Regions from separate parts of the Homo sapiens genome. Here region 1 is linked to region 2. Evidence: fine-mapped expression QTL. A gene starts in region 2. The other region holds a variant in brackets. All regions are shown on one strand. Distances are from middle to middle. Region 1 overlaps TDRD3 (tudor domain containing 3). Region 2 holds the start of TDRD3 (tudor domain containing 3).

Region 1 (2,806 bases), 58 kb after region 2:
TACAAATTCTCAAGTCCTTAGGGGCTTAAAATTTTTTTTAATAATTTTTTTTAATATTTCTCAATCTTCGTAGCTTGTTTCCTTGTAAGTCTCATGATAGTTTGTTATGATTTCATTTTTCTTGATCTTTCTCTGTGAGAATCCTGGCCACTTGAATCAGAAATGCTTTTTTGTTTTGTTTTGTTTTTAGAAGGGATATGTGCTTCTTTCTGCCTTGAGCTAGTGGGGGTGCTACTTGACTTACAGTGAGTTAAAGTGCTGGCTAAGGTTAACTTTGCCCCTTGGCCACCAGCCCAAAGCTGAAACTCTTAGTTGCAGTGTTGTTACTGCCAGAAGCAAACATCTTCTTTGGAGGGAAATGTAGCCCAAATTGGGGTTCACCCTAGATGCGTACATGGATGACATTGGGAATGTTTCTGAAATTTCTAACAATGTATATTTCTTTTTTTTTTTTATTTTTGTTTTCTTGGGTCTGATACCATACGTAGAATGGTACAGGGTGTATGTGACAAATCAGACTTTATTTTTTTCTCTCTTCCTATCCCACCTCTATTGATTGATTGGTTGATTGATTGATTGAGACAGAGTCTTGCTCTTGTTGCCCAGGCTGGAGTGCAGTGGCGCGATCTCGGCTCACTGCAACCTCTCCTTCCCGGATTTAAGCGATTCTCCTGCCTCAGCCTCCCAAGTAGCTGGGATTACAGGCGCCTGCCACCACGCCCGGCTAATTTTGTATTTTTAGTAGAGACGGGGTTTCACCATGTTGGTCAGGCTAGTCTGGAACTCCTGACCTCAGGTGATCCGCCCACCTCAGCCTCCCAAAGTGCTGGGATTACAGGTGTGTGCCACCACACCTGGCTTATATTTATTTATTAAAGTCAAATTGTGTTGAAATGATACTAAGAGATGTTTTGACAGAGAAAGTAGGTAAAAAAGAGGTCGTCATAAGTGCTATTTAAAGCTTATCTTTCAGGCTTTTAAAGCAGCTATAGGCAGAATTAGTATTTCTTCTTCCAAGGCAGCTTTCTTGAAACATTGCCCTGTTAAGGGCAATGGGCCTTAAGGTAAAGATGTGAATAATTTAGTCAAAAACCTCCCTTGAAATAAAAGAATGGATGAAAAAATGATCCCTAGGAAATCTCCCCTGAAGCCACTGGAAATGCTTTTGGAAGTAGTGATGGGGTAGAGAAGGAAATGAATTAAGACTTTAAGTAGATAAAAGAACTATGGAAGATTAAACTATTTCATTTTCTCTTAATTTTAATCTACTTTGCAATAATGGTGGAACATTGATTGGAACTGAATCACACTCATATATTCCTTTTGGGTGTATG[G/A]TTTGTTTCTAGGGTTGATGGAGAGTGTGATGCTTATGTTGTTAGGTATACAGATTGAGAAATTTCTTTCTCAAGAGAATTAATAAGATTACAAAAACAGGCCAGGTATGGTTGCCCACGCCTGTAATCCCAGCACTTTAGAAGGCCAAGGTGGGTGGATCACCTGAGGTCCAGAGTTCGAGACCAGCCTGGCCAACATGGTGAAACCCATCTCTACTAAAAAAGATAGAAAAATTAGCTGGGTGTGGTTGCTCACACCTGTAATCCCAGCTACTAGGGAGGCTGAGGAAGGAGAATCACTTGAACCTGGGAGGCGGAGGTTGCAGTGAGCCGAGATCAAGCCATTGCACTCCAGCCTGGGTGACAGAGTGAGACTATGTCTCAAAAAAAAAAAAAAAAAAAGATTAATGGCTGGCATGTATTTTCAGGTTAAGTGTCTTAAATGGTTTCTAGAGTTAAGAAAAAAAAATTGTTTTAAGTGTTTATCCAGATGTGATTATACTGTAGAGAATTAGTCCCCTGTCATCCAAACTTTGGAGTCTGATTGATAGACAAGAATGTTATTTAGTATGATCAATAAATTAATAAATTAACACAACCATTTAAATCTGATATTTCATATCCGTTGGTATGACTAGTTAGGAGTTTAGATGACAGAGGTATTCGTCTACCTCAGGAGAAGAAGGAATGATGCCTGGATTAATGGCCTGAGAGAATATTTCTAGCAGATACTTAATATTGTTTGTTAGAGTTAGACATGCTTACCTGGAGGTGCAATGATACATCTTTCTAAGCCACTAAAATTTTTTAGAGTAATTTCTTTTGATTTTTTCTTATTACTAATACAAAAGAGAAAATCAGACATTAAAGAAGACTTGGGTGATCAAGATTAATCCTTTTTATTATTTTCATTTGAAATTGGTATTTTTTTTACTTTGGAGTTGCTCTTAACAGTAGTTGAAGAAAGATTTAGAAATTAATTCTTGTCTATTTTTGTGGATGTTTTAGATGACTTTTTTTGAGACACCTTTTTGTGTGTATGTGTGTCACCTGGGCCAGAGTGTAGTGGCGCAATCGTGGTTCACTGTAGCCTCCACCTCCCAGGCTCAAGAGATCCTGCCATCTCAGCCTCCCAAGTAGCTGCGGCTACAAGCACACACCACCACGCTTGGCTAATTTTTGTATTTTTTGTAGAGATGGGGTCTCCCTATGTTGCCCAGGCTGGTCTCAAACTCCTGGGTTCAAGCGAGCCACCCACCTCCATCCTCCAAAGTGCTGAGATTACAGGTGTGAGTCACCGCACCCAGCCTTAAGATGATTTTAGATTCAGGATTTAGGATCTTAGAACCATAACATTTAAAAAATTTTATTATGTATATTTTATCTAGGTCCATTACTTCCCTATGTTTTAACTACAGAGTATAAGAAACTGAATATTGTAAGCAGAATAATGAAAAAAATCGTTATATTTA
Region 2 (2,806 bases):
TCGCGATTTTATAACTATGACTTTTGGGAAGACCAAACGGAATACCCCAGCTGAAATGAGAAAAATCTGTATTAAGGAATTTTAGCTCCACCCAGGGCAATTATCCCCTTCCTTCCGTAACTGCCAATTTCCTCCCCAATCCCAAGAGCGCCTCTGCCCAGTTCCGCAGTCTCTGCTCCAAGTCTGTTTTTGATGATGCCCTTAGAAGCAGGGGCAGCGGCAAGCGGCGGAGATAGGGATTAAGTTCCTAACAGTCTTCTTCCCCTGACCTGGCAGATGGGGACGCTGCCCCTTAGAAGCCTTTTTCCCCGCAATACGGGACGCCGCAGAGGTGAAAGACCAAGAAGGTGGAGCAAACTTTTAGGGAGCGCCTCTTGGGCCCGCGTACCCTTCCGCCTGTTCCTCTCTGATTGGCCAGCGTGAGTCACGGACGCCCAATCGCGCGGTAGCGTCCGCCGTGCCGCTGGGCGACGGCGGCGCGCATGCCCACTCAGGGACCCACCCTGCGCCCCAGCCCTCTACAGCGCGGGCGAAGGGCATCGGCGGGGAAGCGGCTGTGGTTGCCAGATCTGGCAGTACAGAGCCAAGGTGGCAGGGCCGCGCTAGGACACGGATGGTCCCAGGGGGAGGGCAACAGGAAAAACAAGCACTGACACAACTGCCCCATTTCCCCATGTCCCCTAAAAGCAGGTTTTCTTGGGCTGACCAGGGCATTTTCACTGTGGTGTCCGACTGGGGCAACTCGATCTGCCCGCGGGGACTCAAAAAAGCTTGAGCTGCATTTTTTCTTTGCGTCCGGGCGGACCAAAAGGCGAGGTGAAGGGAACGAGTGTTTATAAGAAAGTAAACTTTTGTGCAGAATGGGCTGGGGACACCTCTGAGTTTTGCTGCCCGCAACGTGACCTTTTTAGCGCGGTCCTGGACGCGTTCCCTCGCAGCCAACCCGTCAGTCTCCTCAGGCCTTATCCTGCCCTCTCTGAGGTGGCCGCCTGTGGGCGCTGCAAACGCCACACTTTTGCTCTACGAAGAACCTCCTCGCGACTTTCCAAGGTGTGCAACTCAGAAAAGCGCCCCCCAAAACAAGTAAAAGCCTTCGGGGAAGAGGCAAAGTCCCTGAACCGTCCTGACTCCAGCCACCAGCCGGTGTTTGGTGGATCAGGTCCCGGAGCTCCGCAGCCTGGGAGCCCCACACCAGGCCGGCCCCTACGGCCGCTCAGAAAACGCGGCGAGCGGAACCCGCACGCGGAAGCGCCGGCCGCACTGAGCATGCCCAGTTGCAGAGCCGACCAGAGGAGTTTTTTCTTTTCTTTTCTTTTTTTTTTTTTAAGGGGGGGGGTCTCAAGTAGGAGGCCTCCCCATCACCCCCACCCCAGCCCCCCACCACCCCCGGCCTAAGCAGCTACCATGGCCCAGGTGGCCGGCGCGGCGTTGTCCCAGGCGGGTTGGTAAGTGGCGAGTCCCGCCGGCTGCCGGGCCGCGGGTGCGGGCCGGGGCCCCAGGGAGGTTGGGTTGGGGGCGGCGGGGTGCGTGTCGGGGTAGGCGGAGGCTGTCGTCCGCCCCCGGCCTCTCCCCGGGCCCTTCGGGCCGGCTCCGCCCCCGGCGCCACGCGGAGCCCTGCGAGTTCCCCTAGGTCCCCTGGAGGCGGCGGCGGCGGCGGCCTGGGCCCCGGGCGGCGGGCCTGGGCCCCGGGCGGCGGGCGGCGGGCCTGGGGAGAGGCCGGGGGCCGCGAGCCGGGCGGGTGGCGGCCCAGACCCCGGCCGACCGGAGCGCCGGGGAGGACCTGCAGCGCCGTCCGCGCGGCTTCTCCGGGGAGGGGGTGTTTCTGCAGCGGGATCGGGAGGCGAGGGCTGGGAACGAAGTGCGGCGGAGAGGGACGAACGCGGCCGGAGCCCGCGGGCCCATAGGAAGTTGAGGGCAGAGCAGAGCACAGCCCGCGCTGCGGCCGGAGCCGCCTCTTCTTACCCCTTATTTCAAAGTACAGTGTGGACCAGTGTGAATCTGCCTTCCGCGGCACACACACAACTTCTGGAGCTAAGAATGACCGCAATGTCAACTCGTGGGGGTGCTCGGTAGAACTTTTCTTGAAAGGATGGTGTTCTGATTTTAAGAGGCCTTTCGTGTCAAGATTTTCAGGATTTGAAAACAATACAAAATTATGCGAAATTAGGCAGTTTCTGGAATTGCGGCCATTACGGTTGTAATCATCCCGTTTAATTCAGTAACGCTTTTCCCAGGCTTGCACAGGCACATTCTGGGATGAAGGGTAGGAACGGGGATGAAAAAGATTTGCAACGGCTCTCTGCAATTACTGCTTTAGGAGAAAGAGTGAGGCATTAAAAGACCAAACAAAACCAGGGGGAATAGTGATAAACCGTACGTACAGAGGAACAGATGAGTGCACTGTGGAATGGGAGGGAGAGTTACTTTCCTAAAGTGGACTTGGAAAGATGGTAAGGAAAAGGCTTTCTAGCACAGAGCTGCTGGAGATGACACAGGGAAGCGCTTATTGTTTTGCAGAACCTACACAAGATCTATATGGTTCGTGAAAGATGTGGATTTGATTTTGTGAATAAAGTTTTTGATCAGTAGAGGGATATAATCACAACTGTGCTTTGAAGAAGCCCCTCCTGATTTTAAAGGCACTTGTGTTATTATACACCCCATTTTACAGGTGAGGAGACTGAGGCAAAGAGCTGTTAAGTAACTTTCCCAAAATGACATAGCTAGAAAGTGGTGGAGTTGAATGTTGAGCACAGAGGGCCTGGCTCTGGGCCTGGTTCCTTTAACGCTTATGCGTTATTGTTGT

Evidence for each region. PIP is the estimated chance that this variant, and not a neighbour inherited with it, causes the effect.
Region 1: its variant is the best candidate, but not a certain one, in a credible set for the expression of TDRD3 in whole blood (TOPMed, PIP 0.76).

Annotation. Positions count from the first base shown.
Region 1 is chr13:60,454,353-60,457,158 of GRCh38, forward strand. All of the region lies in intron 3 of TDRD3 (tudor domain containing 3), which reads left to right. Among named protein-coding and RNA genes, the nearest start is that of TDRD3, 59 kb to the left of the region's middle. The variant G/A (reference allele first, on the strand shown) is at 1,335.
Region 2 is chr13:60,395,961-60,398,766 of GRCh38, forward strand. It overlaps TDRD3 (tudor domain containing 3), which reads left to right and starts at 1,260. Exons shown (of 14, transcript NM_001146070.2): 1 at 1,260-1,445. The coding sequence starts at 1,405. RefSeq lists enhancers at 182-251, 582-911, 620-1,132, 982-1,181, 2,062-2,111 and a silencer at 1,322-1,891.